Linked DNA regions of Homo sapiens: regions 1, 2 and 4 are each linked to region 3. The links come from fine-mapping of genetic effects on plasma protein levels. Region 3 holds a variant in brackets. A gene starts in each other region. All regions are shown on their reverse strands.

Region 1 (5,146 bases), not on the chromosome of region 3:
AAAATAACCTAAAGATAAACTATTAAAATTAATAAGTAAATTCCGCAATTTTAGTAGATATTAAAAGGTCAGTAAGGCCGGGCATGGTGGCTCACGCTTGTAATCCTAGCACTTTTGGAGGCCAAGGCGGGCAGATAACTTGAGGTCAGGAGTTTGAGACCAGCCTGGCCAACATGGTGAAACCTCATCTCTACTAAAAATACAAAAATTAGCTGGGCATGGTGGCAGACACCTATAATCCCAGCTACTTGGGACGCTAAGGCAGGAGAATCGCTTGAACCTGGGAGGTGGAGGTTGCAATGAGCCAAGATCGCACCAGTGCACTCCAGCCTGGGGGACAAGAGCAAAACTCTGTCTCAAAAAAATAAAAATAATGGTCAGTAAAACAAAAAAGTATTATATTTCTATATACCAATATACATTTAGAAAAAAATCTAATGATGTCACTTACAATATCATAAAAAACATATCAATAACCTAAGGATAAACCTACCAAAAGATATACTTTCCAGAGGCAAAGCTATAGAAAATTACTGAAAGAATGTCAAGTTAACCTAAATAAATGAGGGGATATTGTATGTTTATGGATTGGGAGACTAAATCTTTTCTAATTTATACAAATTAACTTATAAATCCAATGCAATCCCAGTTATTAAAAATCTACTAGGCTTTTGGGGAGAGAGGGGACAGGAATTGACAAGGTGATTTTTAAATGTATAGAAAAATTCAAAAAGCCAAAAATAGCCATAACAATTTTGAAGAAGAACAGCATTTTATGACTTAAACTATCAGTTAATAAGAGTTATTATAAAGCCACAATAATTAGAAGAGTGTGGTATTGGCATGAGGATAGACAAAATAGACTAATGGACAAGAAAGGAGTTTCCAAAAATAGACCTACATGGCTTTTTGTTTTATAACAAAGGTGAAATTGCACTGTACTGTGGAAAAAATCAACTTTCAATAAATAGGGCAGGATAAATTATCTGTATTTAAGTTAAAAGTGAATATAAACACTCAAACTGTACACAAAAATCAATTGCAATGCTCTTATAAATATAAAATAAATGGTAAAAAATAAAGTTTCTAGAAGATAACCTGGGAGAGTATCTTTATGATCTTGGAGTAGACTAACTTTCTTAGAAGGGATGCAAAAATCTCTAACCACAAAGGAGAAGACTGATAAACTGGACTATGTCAAAGTTAGAATGGTTGTTCATCAAAAGGCACTATCAATGAGCAAAGAAGCAAGCCACAGATTGAAGGAAGACATTTGCAATACATATATCCAACAAAAGGTTTATATTCAGGGTTTAAAATAACTACAAAACAGGAAAAGAAAGACTGAAAGTTAAGAGAAAAATGAGGAAATATTTGAACAGAGATTGCACATAAAAAGGATATCTACATCACCAATTAGACTATGAAAAAATGCTCATTCTCAAATTCACCAGAGACATACAAATTAAAACCACATTGAGATAATTCTAGCAGAACGGCCAGATTTTACTAGATGACAATACCAATATCAGCAAGAATTTTAGAACAATGATAACTCTCATACATTGGTTGGTGGGTGTGGTGGGAATTGGCACAACCACTTTGGAAAATAATTTGGTAATACTTCCTAAACTGAATATATGCATACCTTATGAGCCAGGACTTCCACTCCCAGATATATACCCAACAGAATTATGTGCGCATATGCCCCAATAAATGTATACAAGAATGTTCATAGCAGCACTATTTGTTTTAGCACCAAAAGTAGGTAAAGATTCTGTGTTCCCTTTGAAGTTCTCCTCTTAATCTCTATTCACCCCTGTAACCCCTGTATGGTTTTCTTGCCTCAGGGTGCAGTGGGTCAGATGTGACATAATATACCTAAGGTGATGTGCATTTGTAGATATAAAATTAAATGCCCCCTTAGGAAGACCAAGGTATGGGCCCAGAGAGAAAGGGTGAGAAAATATTTGAAAGAAAGAAACTGGCACTCCTCGTGGCAGCTAATGTCTTAGGAACCTCTGTTGACCAGTATACCAGGATGGAAACTTGACTTTTAGAAAATCATAAGAGCTATACATTCACCTGGTAATTTTTTAAAAAATCAAACGGTACAGAAATACATAAAATAAATTGTGTTCTTCCCACCTATTGCTCCTCAAACATAATCAATATTTTTGTGTGTACTTTCCAGGAAAAGAAGAAAGTATACTTAAAAGAGTTGATGTACACATATATCCTATTTTTTATATTTACCCAATGGGATAATACTACAAAACCAATCTATATCTCACTTTTATTCTCTTCACATCAAACAAGGTGGTCTTCCCTTCTTGGCATGTTCAGATTTACCTTATTCTTTAATGATTGCTTGTCACCATACGGATGAATCAGAATATTCTTAAACAGTCCCCATATCATGGTTTTTTGTTTTGTTTCCAGTGTTTAGGCAATAATGAATGCTACAATAAACGTTCTTATAGTACTCTCTTCAGATACTTCCTTCAGGGTAATTTCCCAATAGCAAAAATGTAGGGTCAAGGGTATTTGATTTTTTAAAACCTTAACTTTTTTTTTTCTTTGATCATCGGGTAGGAAACTGTGATTAGCAGCTGAAGACGGGTACTCCCACTTCCTTTTTTCAATTCACTAATGCATTCTGCTCTTTTTGAGAGCACAGCTTCTCAGATGTGCTCCTTGGAGCTGGTGTGCAGTGTCCTGACTGTAAGATCAAGTCCAAACCTGTTTTGGAATTGAGGAAACTTCTCTTTTGATCTCAGCCCTTGGTGGTCCAGGTCTTCATGCTGCTGTGGGTGATATTACTGGTCCTGGGTGAGTAAAAGGGCTCACCATGGGCCCTGGGTGGGATCGGGACAGCTTCTCTCTCCACCGCAGGCCTGGTCCTTTCTTGGGGCTCAGCCCCTGCTGAGAGACTCTCTCCTACATTAGGAGACTGTATTTTTGAACTTTACTCTGTAGCTCAGGGCTTTCTCTTGAGGCTGAAGAAAATGGCCACAGCTGGAAGGAATTTTCAATCTTACAGAGTAGGAAACCACAATAACCACAACAATTAAAATTTCATTTATTTTTTTCTTTAAAAAGTACTTCTTAAAGTCCAGAGAATGTTTCATGTTTGTTTGTTCATATTGTCTTACTCATAGAAGAGCCCACTCTCCTCTCTGCAGAGGAGATGTATTTATTCCTTGTATGACAAGGCCAGATCCTGGTCCCCAGCATAAGAGGCAAGGTTTCTAACGGGAAAGACAGGTCTTTCTCTTGTACATAATTGCAAACCACTGCAGCAATTGGCTGATTAAGAACATGGGGTGGAGGAGGTCGCAGAGGCGTAGGTGGACAAAGCAAGGATAAATCTAAAGCATATGACTTTCTCTTTGTCCCTGTGGGTGTACGTAAGTCTCTATCAACTCATATGTGCGAACTGGTTGATTTTTACTAAAGGTTAAATATTATAATTAAATATGTTTATTTATTTGTTCAGCAAATGTGTTTAGTAATATCTATGCACAGGTGCTGAGCAATTAGAGTCCATAGGAGACACTACGTCTATGTTCTGGAAAGTCATGACATAGAAGGGCTCCCAGCAAGGCCAATGTACTTTCAAGCAGCTATGCAACAAGCTCCCAGTTAAATAATTGTCCAGGCAAAGTTACCAATGAATGCTGTAGGCAGATAATAAACTGTATTCAAAATAGCTAGTAAAGACTTCATGAAACTTAGAGGTGAGTAGGAGCTAGAGGAGCAGAAATGGAGCAGGCGTGATATAAGAAAAGAGGACCTCACAGTTGGAAGGTGCATGGACTATAATTCCTGAAGTAGGAATACATCTCAGTGTGGCCCCACACAATGTGGGTAATGGCCAGGTCCTGAGCATGAGAGGGCAAAGTTTATAACATGGGCTCTGGGGTCAAACAGGATCTAGGTTCAAACTTCATCTTGCCACCTACTGGCTACCAGATTCCTGGTCTACAAAATGCAGTTAATCCTAGTGCTTACCTCACAGGATTATTGACATGGTTATATGAAATAACCTACGTAAATGCAGACCATATAGAAACCACTCACAAAAATATTAGCTTCATTTAAAACAATGCAAAGATGAAGGAAGCCAAAATATTCAGGTGAATGGTGAATAATTTGTTGTTCTCAGTAAAACACTTAAGTTTGGATAAGTCTCCAATAGCCTCATGTGGACAGGGATGATTTGTCTCTCACACACTCCTGGATTTCTATTGCCTTGCTCTGGAGTATGATTGGCATTCCAAAAATCTGTTGAATAAATAAATCAACCCATATGCAGAATACCTACTCAATTGATAAACCTGCCAGTTTTGTGTCCTCTCTCTCTTCATTACCCATTTCTCAAATCTCTATCCTTCTATTCCTATATTATTAACCTAGTTCTTTAATTAATTCATTATACAACACAAATATATTTAGTGAACATTAAAGGAATATCTTTTATATGCCATTCACCGTTATAGGTCCTGGAGGATATATGGTGAACATAAGGAAAGTCCTAGGTCTCATAGAGCTTGCATTATAGAGAAGGGAAAATAAACAAGCAGATAATGAAGATAATTTGGATAAATACTCTGACAAAAATTACACATTACCATCTCTTGGGCTGAGCATCAGGTCTAAATAATCTGAGCATCAGTTGATTGTTTAAAAATTAGGCATGATGATAATGAGCCCTTGGATTCAATGATCTCATGAAAAGAGTATAGCCTGGAGTCTGGTGCCCAAGGGAGGCTTAATTCATGTCCATTTCCTTGCCCTGCCTTCTAATCAGTCTCCCTGCTTCATATTGTCCCATTAAATTCTGTCCACTGACAGAGTGCTCCATCAAAGTCTGAAATTCTAACCTTGTCAATCTCCTCCTTGAAACCATTCCATGACTCCTTATCACTTTTATAATAAAATTAGAACCACTTACTCAGGCCCTGCATGCTTCTCTGGTCTTATTTCCCCCAACACTCCCAGTTCCTGAGCACCAATGTCATTTCTCCACTTCTGTGCCCTTTCTACCTTGAAAGGTAGAAATCGCCTCTTACCACACACAAATGCTAACATCCACCTGCAGACTCATGTTCTCACTCACAGTTTTGTGAAGTATCATCTCCTT
Region 2 (5,124 bases), not on the chromosome of region 3:
CCATTCTCCTGCCTCAGCCTCCCGAGTAGCTGGGATTACAGGTGCGTGCCACCACGCCCGGCTGATTTTTTGTATTTTTTAGTAGAGACAGGGTTTCACCATGTTAGCCCTGATGGTCTCGATCTCCTGACCTCGTGATCCACCCGCCTCGGCCTCCCAAAGTGCTGGGATTACAGGCGTGAGCCACCCCGCCCGGCCGAACCCATACACTTCTTACAGAGGGAACTTGCAAATCACTTTTATCCTAAGTTCCTTATATGCGATTTCTACCTACAACTAGATCCATTTTCTCTGAAAATAGCAGGTACCCTCTTTTAAGTGGAGGAAAAAGGCTTTTGAAGTAAGCAGGTCTCCAGTAAAGGTCCTTCCTGCCGAGTTGCTCCTTTTAAAAATCTAAAACAAACAACACACATCCGTCCTGAGACTGTAGGGACACTTCAGCGCCCCAGCAGCATCCTTGGATGAAGCAGCGGGGGGGCTGTGGGCACACCCCCAGGCGCACCCCGCACCCTAGCGGCCCCGGAGCGCCGGCCCCGTTGCCCTCCAGGGTCCCGAGTGGGGGGTGGCGCCGCGATGCGCCCTCGCCTCCCGGCTCAGCAGCCGCCGGCGAGACACATTTCCTGTGCCTATCAGCACCCCCATCAGACCGCAGCCCAGGAGAGGCCAGTGACATCACCCAGCCCCCCTGGCGTCTCCAGAACAGCCCCGGACTGGCCGAGGCACCCCGGCGAGTATGCAGAGCCCCGACTCCTCCGGGCGCCGGGTGGGGCGCCGGTGCCTGGGCTGGGGACCGTGGCCCTGCCCCGCCTCCCGCTCTGCCTAGGTAGGGCTGACCCGGCCAGGGGTCCTCGCATCGGACCAGAGCCGCTCAAGTACAACTACGCAGAAACAGCCCCTCACCTTCTCCTCTGGCCAGGCTGAGGCACTCGGACTGACCCCCCTGGATGCCCAGGGCAGGGCGGCCACCAGCAGCAGCAGGTGGAGGGTGCCCACGACGCGCCGGTGTCTTCCGCCTGCCATCTCTCCGAGTCTGTCTGGGAGCGGGTTCCCCGGGCCGCTGGCGGTCACGAGCCCGGGAACGCGCGTCCTTCGCCTTCCCTCTTCTCCACCCTTGGGTCGACTGCGCCCGCCTTCCCATCGCCCCCGGGTAGCCTCCCGCCGCGTCGCGCAGGCTGCAGCCCTCCTACCCCGGACCTTCGCAAACCCCGGGGCTGGGCGGCCCTGGGTGACAGACACAAGCTTCTGAACCCAAGCTAACAAAGGCGGCCACTTCCTTCTCTTGGAGAAGATGAAAGGAAGGAAGCAAGAGACATGGAAGAGCCTTTTTATGATCTCCAATGCCAAAACAGGGAACAGAAAAGGGAGGAAGGGTTCACCAGACCCTGGGGAGTTATGAAGTGTTTCCCACAGCTCCTAAAGAAGGGGTGGACAGGGAATCGACGTCTGCTGAACACGGCACCAGGCACCGTCCTAGGTGCTTGTCCAACCTTCCCGGATTTAATCCACTAATCCCATTTTACAGACGGGGAGACTGAGACACCCCCCCACCCCCCATAGAAAGCCTGGACTGGAACCCACAAGCAAAAGTATGACAGTGGATCTTTGCCTTTTCTCTTTTTTCTCACAAATAGTTGCCTTGCCTCACATCATACTCTCAAATTGAAAAGGATGGTCAAAGTAATTATCTGAAATAATGAGATCTACAATATTCACAGCGGCTCTGAAGGAGTCATCTTCTCCAAGGCATGGCCCCAAAAGGAAAAGCCAAACACAATTCTATTTACTTTGTAACATCAAAGGTCATTGTTATCCAGATAATCCTAGGGCAGGAAAACATTTCAGTTTTGTCTGTAGGTTTCTGGTCCAAGTTGTCAGGACAGTGACTTTCACCAGCCTCTTTTGCTTCCACAGTGAGGATCAGGGCTTGGCCTGCTCTGAGTCATCTCCCAGTAACATCTAGTTCCCAGAAAAATCAGAACAAGGATACTGAAGCAGAACCATTTCACAGAGAGCAAAGATTTGAAGGTAAGGAAGCTGCCAGAAGGCCCACCCACTCACTCTGTCTTCCCAGCCTTGGCTATGAGTTTTTAAAGAGAGGGCTTGCCTGGAAATACACTGTTCTGCCCTCCTCTGGAGCTGTAGGAGAAGACAGGATGTAAATAACTCCTTTCCTGGTGTACAGATTTGCTAACCCTATTCATGTCTGAGAGTTTTGAGTGACAATTTAAATCTCCAGGCTTAAATAAAATTAAATACACCTTTATTAAACCCACAGACAGTTCTGATCATCGGACCCCCTTCAGAACTTTCTACTGGCTCCAGTTTCAGAACTAAACCACTGTCACATTCCCCAATACAGCTCCTCTCTTGCTGCCTGGGTCAACCTTGAAATAGTGCATTTCCTGAGTGGCTGGGTAATAAAGAGCCTATTTGCTTTTTTTTACCCTATTACCTTTATGTCTTTTCACAATATGGTTCCTATAAGAAAGAGAACGTGGAAATAGCAAACCTAAATGAAACAAAATGTGAGAGGTACTATCATGCTAAGTATGAGCAATTCAAAACAAGAAATATAGAAATAAGCTAAAATGTCAGCACATAACGTAATGATGATTTTGTTTCCTAAGTTTCTCCAATTTTGGTTATATTTAAGTCAATAAGATGTTCTTACAGTTTGGTATCTACAGGAAGCAGACTCTGAGACAAGAGTTTAACATGCAGGATGTGTATTAGGGAGTGCCCTTGGGACAAACCCCTGTGGGAGGAAGAAGGGGAACAGGAGAGAACAGAGGGAGAAGTTAGCAGCAAAGCGGGCCCAACAACCTCACCCAACTCCATGGGAGTCCTGAAGCTGAAAAAGACGGTCAAAGTTGTCCCATACTGGGCCAAAATGTCTGGGGCCTTATCTCTGCACCTCCATGGAGTGATTTCCTGCAAGCGGCTTTCCAGCCAAAAGAGCTTGACTGCTAGAGGCTGTGGGCCAGCCGGCCTCCAACAGCTGGAGCAGGGTCCTTCCCTGGGGGCAGATCTGGGCAGCGCATCTCCTGTATCCACCACAAACGTATTGTATCTGGTACAAATCTAAAACATTCCACATAGCTAGTGAGACTGATTTCAATACATTGGTTTTTTTTTTACATGTAAGCTTTTCTGCCAACTTTCCAAGAATCTACAAATCCAACACCACTATGTATGTATCACTTCATTCCTTATGCATATCTTTTCTAGTGTCTTACACACTAAATACCCTTTTCCTTTCCTTCGCTCATTCTTTTCTCTCTTCCTTCATTTGGGAAACGTTTAGAAATACCTTATATCTGCTATTTTTGCCCTACTTCAACTTTTCCTTTCTTCAAACTCTTCCCATGGAAGATAACTAATGACTTTTCCATTTTAATTAAAGTTTCAGACCCTGTTTTTCATCATGGAAAAAATGTGTTGTATATACAGTGATAACACTGTTCTCAAGTGGAGAAATTTTTACCTCCATTATAGTATAGATTCCATACTGTGATGTGAAGGAAATGAAGGACCCAATTGCCAAAACAGATCTTCTCCATGAAGCTGCCATGGCAGGATGTTCCTACACCCAGTCCCACCTTTAAAGTGGCGCCATTAGATCAAAGTAGTAATGACCAGAAGGTTCTATTAAAACAATAGTTTTCAAAAGTGTGGTCCATGGATACTGGGGATTCCCCAAGACCCTCTTGGCTGTCTCCAAAGTCAAATCAACTTTTATAATAATACCAAAACAAGATTCATTTTTTCTACTGTATAGACTTTGCACTGATGTTGCAAAAGCAATGATGGGTAAAAATGCTGGCACCTTAGCAACTGTCAATACAGGACACAAAACTGTACTATTGAGGAGGAAAATCTATACTTGTAGTCATTGTGTTTTTCTTTCTTTCTTTCTTTTTGGAAGGAGTTTCACTCTTATTTCCCAGGCTAGAGTGCCATGGTGCCATCTCGGCTCACTACAACCTCTGCCTCCCAGGTTCAAGCGATTCTCCTATCTCAGCCTCCTGAGGAGATGGGATTACAGGCATGCACCACCATACCCTGCTAATTTTTGTATTTTTAGTAGAGACAGGGTTTCACCATGTTGGTCAGACTGGTCTCGAACTCCTGACCTCAGGTGATCTACCTGCCTCGGCCTCCCAAAGTGCTGGGATTGCAGACGTAAGCCACCATACCCAGCCATCTTAGTATTTTTCACTGCCACGCATAAAGAAAAAAAAAAAGAAGAGGACGATAAAAGAAAAGAAAAAGAGCCAGTTTCACTTAAGAATGTCATTGATGAAGTAATAAAATTGTTGTTTTACTGCCTTCTGAAGCTGTCTCTCCATGAAGCTAGATTTTAAATCTAGCAGGACAGAGTACAGGAGGAGAGAGAGCTCCTCACGTCTGCGTTTTCATCTCATGGAGACCACCAGCTCTGTGTGGACTCCTCCTACCTGCACTGCATCCTGGAAACTCTCAAAGCAGTAAGCTGGAGAAAACATCAGGCTCATCTCATTTCATTTTCCCTTTTCTCACCACTTTCCTGTGATACCTCTTTTCCAATATTTAAGCATCATTTTAAAAATTTTTATACACTTAGAGAGTACAGGAGCAGTTTTGGTACATGGATATACTGCATAGTGGACAAGTCTGGGCTTTTAGTGTAAGCATCACCTGAAAACATAGTATACATTTACCCATCAGGTAATTTCTCATCCCTCCTACCCTCCCACCCTTCCAAGTCTCCAATGTCTATTATTCAGCTCTTCATGTCATTGTGTACACATTATTTAGCTTCCACTTATAAGTGAGAACATGTGCTAGTTGAGCTGTTTCACTAAAGATAATGGCCTCCAGTTCCATCCATGTTGTTACAAAAGACAAAATTTTGTTATTTTTAATTGCTGGTAGTATTCCAGGGTGTGTGTGTGTGTGTGCGTGTGTGTGTGTGTGTGTGTGTGTGTGTGTGTGACGTTTTCTTTATCCAATCCATTGTGAATGTCATTTTTAATATATTTTAGGTGGGATGACAAATCCAGTTCCATCTTAACTGGAAGCACAAATTGAGAGTATGCAGCTCTTTATACTCACATGGGAAAATAAGACGTAGAAATCAAACAC
Region 3 (5,133 bases):
GGCGGGCGTCTCCGGCCTCAAGCTTCCCGGCTCATCTCTCCGGCGACGGCGGCGGCCCCGCCACTCCTGCTGTCTTTAGGCGCAGCCGTCTCAATTCAGGATTCCAACGCTTCTGGGCCGCGTGCCGCGCCGCCGAGCACCCCGCCGCGCCGCCTCTGGCTCTGCTTCAGCTTCAGCTTCCACCTCCACCTCCACCTCCGCCACCGCCGCCACCAGCGCCACCGCCGCCGCCGCCACTCCTCCCCCCCTCCTCCTTCCCCTCCCGCGAGCCCCGGGCCCACCGGCAGCGGTGGCGCACGATTAGTACGTCACACCCGGCGAAGAGCGCCGGCGCGGCCACCAAGCGCGCGGTCCCGTCTACCCGAGGACGCCGGCGCCACGGGACTGGCCAGCCCAGAGCGCTACGCGAGGCTGCGCCTGCGCACATCCGCCGCCCGGCCGCGCGTGGCGGCCCCGCCACTTTCCCTTTTGCGCCGCGCTCTGTCTTCTCCGCGCTCGCGGGCCTGACCCTAGCGGCATCCCCAGTACCTTGATCCGGCGGGGGGCGCGCCACAGGAGAGCCAGGAGGGCGGGAGATCCCCGTACGAGGACCGGGCTGAGGCGAGGCAGTGGGGGAAATGGAGCCGGGGTATCATTCATTCTATTTTATTTAACTTTAAGCAGGGCTTGATCAGAAAGAAGAGCTCAGAGGAGTGAGGCAACACCAACACCAGGGCGTACGATACACCCGAGGCTCCTCCGACACCAGTTCCAGCCCGGAAGGGCTTGGAATGGCCTGCCACGCCGGGGCAATGGAGCGCGTGAAAGCCAAACCTTGGGACCCGAAGAGTAATTTGACTGCGAAGGCACCGTCATCGTCGGGCACCCCCTGTAGACGGGCGCATAATAGCTACATCTCTGGAGATAGTGATGGAAACTGGGGTCCGATAGATGGAGAGAAGGACGTAGGATAAGGCTTCTTGTGGGGTGAAGAGGCAGAGGGCACCTGGAGAGAGGTGTGGCATGGAGAACCAGGGGTTTTCCCTAGCAGAGGGCGGCTTCGTGGACTTCGGCCAACCGGCGGGTGCTTCCCTCGAGCGGCCGCTAGATGGTGGTGCTGTTCTGGATGCTTCCAGTGGGCCCCGACCAGGTCTGGACAATGCCTGGCGCCCGTCCCCCGCCCCTCATCTACACACACGCAAGAATTCGGAGCTCCATGGGGAACAGAAGCAAGATATCCGTAAAATCAAAGTCTAGGGGGTGGGAATGAAAAGGGAAAAGTGAGGAACGGGGAGCCAAACCCAGGAAGACGCCTCTGTTCCTGCACATTCCCTCTCCTTTATATACTCAGCTCTTGGCTGTCTCCAGTATGTACCCACCCTGGTCTTCCAAGCTGGGAGCCACTTTTTATAACACAATCACAGTTTCACAAACCCCAGGAAGGTTCCATGTGGAGAGAGGTTAAGTTTCGCCCTTGCCCGGGGAATTATGACACTCAGAATATCCCCTTGGTGTAAATGGAAGACACCTGAGAAAAGAGAGAAAGTAGATTCGCAGTGAAGCACAGCCATCCAGATGCCCTGTTTCCCCCTGCCTTCTCCAGCTCCACCGTTCCTCTGCCTCCTGTAAGGACCCGGCATTCTGCACTTCACTCCTCAGACCCGCCTCTGTTTAGGTTTCCAACCTCCCTCCTAGCGGTAGCTCCCTGCACTGCTACCCCCGGTCAGAGACGTCCTGCTTTCGGCTGCCCACACGGCTCTCACCTGCGCTATAGCAGCTGTTGTAGGCCCGGTCCGGGTGGGAGGGCATACTTCTTATACATCGGAATAGAGTCTCCTGCCTTCCTTGGCCTTCTCGAGACACCACCTGACCCATGGTGAAAGTCACGTCTTGAAACAGGACCTGGCAGGGAAGGGAGATGTTGAAGAAAACAGGATGGCCTGGCTCAGTTCTGGGAGGCCTCAGGAGCGCTAACGAGGGAAGAAAGAAGGGTCTGCTGGGTTTGGTATGAATAGAGGGGTCAGGAACCCTCAGTAGGGGGCCAAAGAGGCCCTCTGTGAAGCTCAGAGTGTGGCTGGGGTTACCTGGCTATACAGCAGATAAACTCCAGCATCCTGGATTCGGACACCATATCCTTGGGCCTGTAGGCCTCTCCCACGCCTAAGAGCTGGTTGCCACATCACCTCTGTCACATCGGAGTCATCTGGAGGTGAGAGTGTGTCGGTCAGGACTTCTTGGCACTCTCAGGTGCTTTTTGGTTCTTTCCCTTTCACCTATAAGGACCCCTTGAGCCCAAGTGCCAGCCCGAGTTCCTGGTTATTGCCCCTCCCCAAAGCCATTATTTAAAATAGTGCTCACCCTTGGAGGTGGCGTTAATGGGAACCAGGTGCAGGACAGAGTGCTGCTCTGAGGAGAGAAGGAGGGAATCTCAGCCGCATCCACTTTCCCCCGTTGTGCTGTTGGCAGCCTCCACCCTCACCCTGACTCGGGCTTACAATCCCCACGCTGCTTGATCACCTCCCACCCCTGCTGCACCCTGGAAGCCTCACTCTTCTGTTTTTGGGTGAGCACTGCTCTCCTTTTCCGGGATCTCTCCCCA[T/C]TCTCCCAGGCTTCCAGGGCATCGGAACTCTGCTCATGGAAAGAGGGTCAAGGTTAGGTTAAGATGCGAGGGTCCCAGCCAGCCTGCCTTCCCAGCCCTCCCCTGCCCCCGAGATGCCTCAGATCTCTCACGCACCTTTTCCCAGCACCCTGAGTGTTGGTGCTGGCTGCCCTCCAGGATTTGTTAGGTATGAGAAGCATTAACCTTTAACAGTTTCCTTTCCTGGAATGGCCGCGCCCCTGACTTCCAAACCGGAGACCCTCTCTTGCACCCCCTTGAAACTTTGCAGACCAGGAGGCCCAGAGACCCCCCATGCTAACCATCCTCTCCCAGACACCCTCCTCCCCTCACTCACCTGCTCCGGGAGACTCTGCCAGGGATACCCTTCCCCATTCTGGGAGGGGCCTCCTGTCCCCTGCAGCCGGCTCACCTCTCTCCTGAGGCTCTGCAGCTCTGTTTGTTGGGTCAGCAGAGCCATGGCACAAGCCACGGCCCCCAGAGCTGCCCCCCAACTCAACCAGAGGGCAACTGAGAGTGCCGGCTCTCTGACTGGGCCCCCCATGTTGCCTGGAGGCCCTTTGGGGGCTAGCAAGAAAGGAGATGAGGCTGGCATGAGCTGGGGACCCTGCCAACAGCTGTGGTTTCAAGAGTGGGGTAGCAAGGAGGTGGCGGGGCGGGTAAGGGTACGGGCAGTGGTGCAGAAGGGAAGAAGGTTGTTACGCAAGGAGAAATAAAAAGGAACTTGAAAATAAAAAGGAGGGAGGAGGAAAGCAAGCTAAGGGTACTGTTAGTGCTCCTGGCACTCCGTCGTGGGGCCAGCGTTGCCTTGAGACCCTCCACCCTCCCTCAGCCTCAGGAGAATTAGGTTCCAGTCCCTCTAGGAAGGACAGGGCTGCCAGTGACACCCAGGAGGAACAGGCAGTGCGCAGGAACCCTGGGGCGGCCCCAGGGTTGGGGGAGGGAAGGTTGGCTGGCTAGAGGGCATTGTGCCAGGAGCAGGATGGGGGGCCAAGCTGGGCAGTGTCCAGGGTCAGGGCGAGGGTGGAAGACCCTCGGGGTCAAGCACAGCAGAGATCGCTGGGGCAGTTCACTAGGGGTGACTGAAGGTGGGAAAGGAGGGGTGGGCTCGATGGGGAGGAGAACCAGGGGCACGGAAGCAAGAAACTGGCTGAGTTCTGGGGTTAAGGCTGGGCCGGGTGTGTTGGAATAAGGCCTGCACTACTCCCTGTGCTGAAATTGGCAAGCAGGACTTCCTGTTTCCCGAGAAAAGCTCTTACATAAGGCTCTGGACGAAGAGACAAAGCAGCGGCCTCAAGCCCCCCGGCCACTGCGGGATTCCTCCCCAGCACACAGGGTTCCGGGTTCCCGTGTGCCTGCTGACTCTCAGCCCCTCCTCCAGGCTGGCTCCTGCCCGCCCCACCTCCCAGCCAGGGCCTGTGCCAGCACCTGCTGAATGTCCGAGGCCACCAAGAGGAAGGGCCCCTGCTCCTCCCAGCCAGGAAGGGATTTCCCCGCAGGAGGAAGTCTGCCTCCTAGGCCAAGGAGGCCGCTTCTGCTGTACCTTGGGCGGAGGATTGATTTTTTTCCTGGGCAGTGTGCCTTCCTACCTCTGCTCCCACCTGGGGGCTGGAGGCATGGAGGTCCCCGCCCCCAAGCCTGAACATCATCCCGGAGTTCCAGCTGTGCCGCTCCGCAACGCCCCCCTTCACGTGGCCCCCAGCTACCCTGAGAGTGTCCCCTGAGCCCCAATAAAGAGAGAGACTATGACTTATTCTATTTAATATCCATTTATCAACATTTTGTCACAATAATAATAAAAATAATATCTGTTTTAAAAATCCACAGGGAATTCTCAAGGGAGGAGCTTGTCTTGTTTCTCGCCCCTCACATTTGGGAACTCCTGGCCTAGGCCCAGTCTCTTTGGCTTCCTGCCGCCAGGTCCAGCCCCTCTTAGTGCCTGAAGTGGGGTCTTCTGGACCCATCCTTGCCCACAGAGTACAGTGAACACAATGCCCTGGGGGTCTGTGGCCAGGGGGGAGTCGAGATCACTGGGGGCCTCAAAGGGTCAGGGATTGGGGAGCTAGTGAGGTGGAGAGTGGGCGGTGGGGGAGTTGTAAGATAAGAGTGGGAATACTGTATTTATGTGGGATGGAAAACACGTGAACAGGCCCAGGCAGCCTCTAGAGGGAGGGGCAGGTCTGGAGCAAAGAGCGGCTGAGGGTGGGGCAGAGGGGACCGGGTGCCCAGAGAGCTGTCGAGGGGAGCCGGCAGCCTGGGACGACTGCGGGGAGACCAGGGCCCCTCAGTGAACCTGGAAGAGTCCGAAGTAGGTGAGGAAGGGGGCAGCCTTGAGATGGGCCCAGGGGAGGGTGCGGATCCGCAGGGAGGACCCTGGCCGCAGGGCCAACAGCCCAGACACCTGGCAGAGGCGGAGCTGGGGCCCGAGGGAACTCGCCGCAGTGGCTGAGAATTCCTCCAGGCAGCGCAGGGCCAGCACACCATCCACCAGCAAGTCCAGCTTCAGGTAGACAGCCTTCCCCTCATCAAAGTGCACC
Region 4 (5,146 bases), not on the chromosome of region 3:
AAAATTAGCTGGGTGTGGTGGTGGGCACCTATAATCCCAGCTACTCGGGAGGCTGAGGCAGGAGAATCACTTGAACCCAGGAGGCGGTCGTTGCAGTGAGCCAAGATCATGCCATTGCACTCCAGCCTGGGCAACAAGAGTGAAACTCAAAAAAAATTATTTAATTAATAATTAGACAAGTGTGGTGGCATGTGCCTGTAGTCCCAGCTACTTGGAAGGCTGAGCTGGGAGGATGGCTTGAGCCAGGGAGGTGGAGGTTGCAGTGAGTGGAGATCATGCCACTCACTCCAGCCTGCACAACAGAGCAAAACCCTGTCTCAAAAATAAATGATAAAATAAGATAAAATGTGAAATGTTTTAAAAAGACAAATTGAGTTATTGTTAAGAAAAGATTGAAAGCTAAATAATAATACAAAATGTTACATCCATAAAAACCATATAAAGAGTGGCATAAACCGGGCAAGGTGGCACACGCCTGTAATCCCAGCACTTTGGGAGGCCGGGGTGGGCAGATCACAAGATCAGGACATTGAGACCATCCTGGTCAACATGATGAAACCCTGTCTCTACTAAAATACAAAAAAAAAAAAAATTAGCCGGGTGTGGTGGCGCACACCTGTAGTCCCAGCTACTCAGGAGGCTGAGGCATGGGAATCGTTTGAACTTGGGAGGCAGAGGTTGCAGTGAGCCGAAATCGCGCCACTGCACTCCAGCCTGGCAACAGAGCAAAACTCTGTCACACACACACACACACACACACACACACACACACACACAGTGGCATAATTAGCACATGGTACAAAAGAGCCAAAGGAGGAGAGGGAAGTGGGGGCCAAGTAGAGTAGGAGCCTTGCTGGAAGAGGGGAATGCAAAAGGATCTTGCAGCATGGAGAGATTTTAGACATACGTTTGGAGGGAATTCAGTGCAACCCACCAGGAGAAGGGCCATGGTGTGTGACTGGCCACACTCCTAAGTCTCCTCCTCACATGTGGCAATTATCCCAATTTCCCGAAAGTCACTTTATATTAGCATTTGGCAGAGCATGTTTCTCAAGAGAGTTAACATACACTCCAGACTAAAACACAAACAAACAAACAACAAATGAAATTGAAAATGTGGTTAAACAGGTGCCTTTATTGCAGAACTTCTCAGAACCCAAAGTACATCTGTAAATCTCTCCCAGATGATTAGGTCATAGATCCTATTTTCCCAAAAGAATCTCAAAGAACTGGTATTTTGGGAAGCACCACTTTAAACCTCCCAGCTATTGCTAGTGGGTGGAAAAGGGCAGCCAACCCATGGTAAGCAGCACGGTGGAAAGTACCGAACCAAAACAGCTGTCAGGCCTGACACTGTGCCTTCAGATCCCAGGACACTTGCTAATGAGCAGCTGGGGCAGGGGACAGTGACACAGCCAGTGAATAGTATTAGGGTATGGCTGACTCCAAAAAAAAATTAAGAGTATTATTGTCTCTATGTGACCCTATGCTAAAAAACTTCACCTCACAACACCCTTATCAAGTAGACTATAAAATCACTTTCACTTCAGTGCTAAAAAGGCTGGAGTACTTTGCTTAAGGTCACACAGCTAGTGACAGAACCAGGCTTTCATCCAGTGAGGGGGATGATTCCAAGAGCACTCAAGAGTCACAGCTTAGAGCAGAAATCAACTCCAGGAAGCAGCTGGGACTGCTCTACCATCTCAAGAAGAAGAACTAGTAAGTGTCAAGGCTGAGGTGAAAGCTCAGAAGCAGATGGTTTTATTAAAAATGGGCAGAACCAAAAACTGGGCTCAGGGTAGAGAAAGATGACGCAGGGAACAGAAGCACTTGGAGGTCAAGCACAACACAGTTTAGAGACTCACAAGCTCTGTGAGTGGTCGAGAACATTCTCATGGGGCAGCTGCCAGCTATTGCTTTTCCTGCTGGCAGCGTCCGCCACAGCAGCTGGAACACACTGATGTTTCGTGTGTTCCAGCCACAACAGTGTACGGTTCTCGTGAAAACTTACCCTCAAAATAGTTGATGCTACAATTATTTGTTTTGCGGTTTTACTTACCACAGTAGGTGTATGAAATACTTGCATCGGATGAGTTGCAGACCCAATACTGCTTCTGAGCTTCAGTAAATATGGAAGAAAACAGGGTGGAAAAAAACAGAAATGGTAACATGATTCAATATCTCCAAAGCTTTACAAATGCAAAGAGGATCAGTAACTAATCATCAGACTCTTCCTTTTCAGTAAGCAGAAAAGATTTAACTTAGTCATCAGTCACATGATTTCTGAGTTCCTATCCAACTGTTTCCTCTTTTTTTGTGTGTGTGTGCTCAACATTTGAGCACTTCCTGTAAAGGAAGAGAGAAAAATGATTTAGAATGTACTCTTCAAACACTTACTGTAAATGAGAGTGATCAAAGACTTAAAAATAAAACAAGACACTTTGGCCAGGCACGGTGGCTCATGCCTGTAATCTCAGTATTTTGGGAGGCTGAGGCAGGTGGATCACTTGAGGTCAGGAGTTCAAGACCAGCCTGGCTGACATGATGAAACACATCTCTACTAAAAATACAAAAATTAGCCAGGTGTGGTAGTGCATGCCTGTAATCCCAGCTATTCAGGAGGCTGAGGCAGGAGCTTCACTTTATCTGGGAGGCAGAGGTTGCAGTGAGCCAAGATGGCACCACTGCTCTCCAGCCTGGGCAACAGAGCAAGACTCCATTTCAAAAAAATTTTTTAAATGAAAAATAAAATAAAATAAACAAGACAATTCCCAGTCAACTGTAACAAAACCAGTCCCTAGGTCCCCCTGAAAGTCTCAACAGACAGGCACTCCTTTTCCCTCTGCATTATTCTTCTCTCCTACAGCTCTGTATAACAGCAGTCCCCAACATTTTTGGCCTCAGGGATCAGTTTCATGGAAGACAATTTTTCCACGGACTGAGGGGATGGGGAGGGATGGTTTCAGGGTGAAACTGTTCCACCTCAGAACATCAGGCATTAGATTCTTATAGGGAGCACGCAACCTAGATCCCTCGCTTGTATACTTCATAACAAGGTTCCTGCTCCCATGGGAATCTAATGCTGCTGCTGGTCTGACAGGAGCTGGAGCTCAGGTGGTAATGCTCGCTCACCTGCTGTTAACCTCCAGCTGTGCAGCCCACTTCCTAACAAGCCACAACCAGATTCCTAACAGGCCATGGACTGGTACTGGTCCACGGCCCCCAGAGGATGGGGCCTCCTGCTTTATAAAACAAATTCTCAGCTGGGCACGGTGGCTCATGCCTGTCATCCCAGCATTTTGGGATACCAAGGTGGGTGGATCACTTGAGGTCAGGAGTTCAAGACCAGCCTGGCCAACATGGTGAAATTCCGTCTCTACTAAAAATATAAAAATTAGCCAGGCATGGTGGCACACACCTGTAATCCCAGCTACTCGGGAGGCTGAGGCAGGAGAATCGCTTGAACCCAGGAGGCAGAGGTTGCAGTGAGCCAAGATTGGGCCACTACACTCCAGCCTGGGCAACAGAGTGAGACTCGGTCTCAAAAACAAACAAACAGGCCAGGCGCAGTGGCTCACCTCTGTAAATCCCAGCACTTTGGGAGGTCAAGGTGGGCGGATCACCTGAGGTCAGGAGTTTGAAACCAGCTTGACCGACATAGTGAAACCCTGTCTCTACTAAAAATACAAAAATTAGCTAGGCATGGTGGCAAGTGCCTGTAGTCCCAGCTACTCAGGAGGCTGAGGCAAGAGAATTGCTTGAACCGAGGAGGTGGAGTTTGCAGTGAGCCAAGATTATGTCACTGCACTCCAGCCTGGGAGACAGAGCGAGACTCCATCTCAAAAAACAACAATAACAACAACAAATCAAATTATCATGGCCCAGAGAGCTGCACCTATAGATCTGAAGTAAACAGTCTCATGGAAACTATTTCTTTTCAGCAGCAGGTTTAGTTACAGGACAGAACAGGGCCAGATAAGACCCCAAACAGGGGACACTAGCTGTAATTCTGTGCTGTGGGCAGGGACTCCACCAGTCTTAATAATGTATTCACCTACAACAAGCTAGAGCTCAAGAGAACATTTTGAGTCCTAATAATGAAATGTCATCCTTTTGTTATGACATGTATTTCATTTCAAAACTCTCACTCCATTTTAGAAAGACAGCTATTCCTTTAGATATCTTGCTACTTGAAATCCTTTACAGGATATAGCTTAGGGTTAGCAGCCAAAAATGGCATGGAGTTTTGGCCTAAAAATCTGCACACTTAAGAAGAAAATAATCATACGTTGGTAAAAATATTTTACAACAGAAGTGTGATTTTTTCCATTTTTTTAGAGATAAAGTCTCACTGTGTTGCCCATGCTGGGGTGCAATGGCTATTCTTAGGTGTGATTATAACACACTGCAGCCTCAAATTCCTGGGCTCAGCTGGGACCACAGGTTTGAGCCGTGGCTCTTGGCCCTGCCATTTTCAAAAAGGCAAAAGTCCAAGGGAGGAGGGGGAAATGGGGAGTTGTTCAATGGGCATAGAGTCTCAAGCTGACAAGATGAAAGAGTTCTAGAGATCTGTTGCACAACAAGGTGAATATAGTTAACACCACTGAACTCTATGCTTAAAACTGGGTAAGATGGTAAATTCTTTAAAAAACACAATTTTAAAATAAATTTAAAAGATGGAAAAAAAAAAGACAACCACCCATGAACACCCTTAGTGGTCTCAAAATACCATTTCCCACTATAAGCAACCAGGACTCCTTGGAGTCTGGGGTAGAAAATGTACAAAATGAGCCTAAAACACTTTGTTATATTAGATAACCAATTTGAAGACGGTTCCACTGAGCAAAGATAGGTGTTTCTAGTTTCCTATAATGGCTGTAACAAATTGCCAAAAGATTTTGTGGCTTAAAACAACATAGGCTGGGCACAGTGGCTCATGCCTGTAATCCCAGCACTTTGGGAGGCCAAAGCGGGCAGATCACCTGAGGTCAGGAGTTCAAGACCAACCTGGCCAACATGGTGAAACCCCATCTCTACTAAAAATACAAGAAATGAGCCAAGCATGGTGGTGGGCATCTATAATCCCAGCTACTCGGGAGGCTGACGCAGGAGAATTGCTTGAACCCAGGAGGCAGAGGTTGTAGTG

Which allele goes with the higher level. Alleles are on the strand shown, and positions count from the first base shown. The strength of an association depends on the size of the effect and on how common the allele is.
For the plasma level of the protein whose gene starts at base 2,649 in region 1, C is the low allele of the variant in region 3 and T is the other (moderate association).
For the plasma level of the protein whose gene starts at base 1,122 in region 2, allele C in region 3 goes with a lower level than allele T (weak association).
As copies of C replace T in region 3, the plasma level of the protein whose gene starts at base 2,222 in region 4 goes down (moderate association).

The links. PIP is the posterior inclusion probability: the model's chance that the variant is causal. The UK Biobank Pharma Proteomics Project read protein levels with antibody pairs (Olink). The fine-mapping took linkage between variants from a reference panel, not from the people measured, so its PIPs are less certain.
Region 1: FCRL5 starts here. The variant in region 3 is fine-mapped to the plasma level of the FCRL5 protein (UK Biobank, PIP above 0.99).
Region 2: QPCT starts here. The variant in region 3 is fine-mapped to the plasma level of the QPCT protein (UK Biobank, PIP above 0.99).
Region 4: it holds the start of LY96, and the variant in region 3 is fine-mapped to the plasma level of the LY96 protein (UK Biobank, PIP above 0.99).

The regions. Positions count from the first base shown.
Region 1 is chr1:157,550,018-157,555,163 of GRCh38, reverse strand. FCRL5 (Fc receptor like 5) reads left to right here and starts at 2,649. Exons shown (of 17, transcript NM_031281.3): 1 at 2,649-2,832. The coding sequence starts at 2,802.
Region 2 is chr2:37,340,628-37,345,751 of GRCh38, reverse strand. It overlaps QPCT (glutaminyl-peptide cyclotransferase), which reads right to left and starts at 1,122. Exons shown (of 7, transcript NM_012413.4): 1 at 901-1,122. The coding sequence starts at 1,020. LOC124907754 (a long non-coding RNA gene) reads left to right here and starts at 697. Exons shown (of 2, transcript XR_007086284.1): 1 at 697-2,025; 2 at 5,025-5,124. RefSeq lists a silencer at 692-751.
Region 3 is chr17:7,557,098-7,562,230 of GRCh38, reverse strand. TNFSF12-TNFSF13 (TNFSF12-TNFSF13 readthrough) reads right to left here. Exons shown (of 11, transcript NM_172089.4): 7 at 2,529-2,607; 8 at 2,338-2,385; 9 at 2,064-2,182; 10 at 1,743-1,881; 11 at 630-1,507. The coding sequence ends at 1,398. TNFSF12 (TNF superfamily member 12) reads right to left here. Exons shown (of 7, transcript NM_003809.3): 7 at 4,350-5,132. The coding sequence ends at 4,881. TNFSF13 (TNF superfamily member 13) reads right to left here and starts at 3,481. Exons shown (of 6, transcript NM_003808.4): 1 at 2,934-3,481; 2 at 2,529-2,607; 3 at 2,338-2,385; 4 at 2,064-2,182; 5 at 1,743-1,881; 6 at 630-1,507. The coding sequence starts at 3,191. The coding sequence ends at 1,398. It overlaps SENP3 (SUMO specific peptidase 3), which reads right to left and starts at 312. Exons shown (of 11, transcript NM_015670.6): 1 at 1-312. It also overlaps SENP3-EIF4A1. RefSeq lists a silencer at 169-248 and enhancers at 809-1,058, 3,433-3,482, 4,293-4,352, 3,938-4,731. The variant T/C (reference allele first, on the strand shown) is at 2,579.
Region 4 is chr8:73,988,468-73,993,613 of GRCh38, reverse strand. LY96 (lymphocyte antigen 96) reads right to left here and starts at 2,222. Exons shown (of 5, transcript NM_015364.5): 1 at 2,060-2,222. The coding sequence starts at 2,171. RefSeq lists enhancers at 1,441-1,510, 1,881-1,980.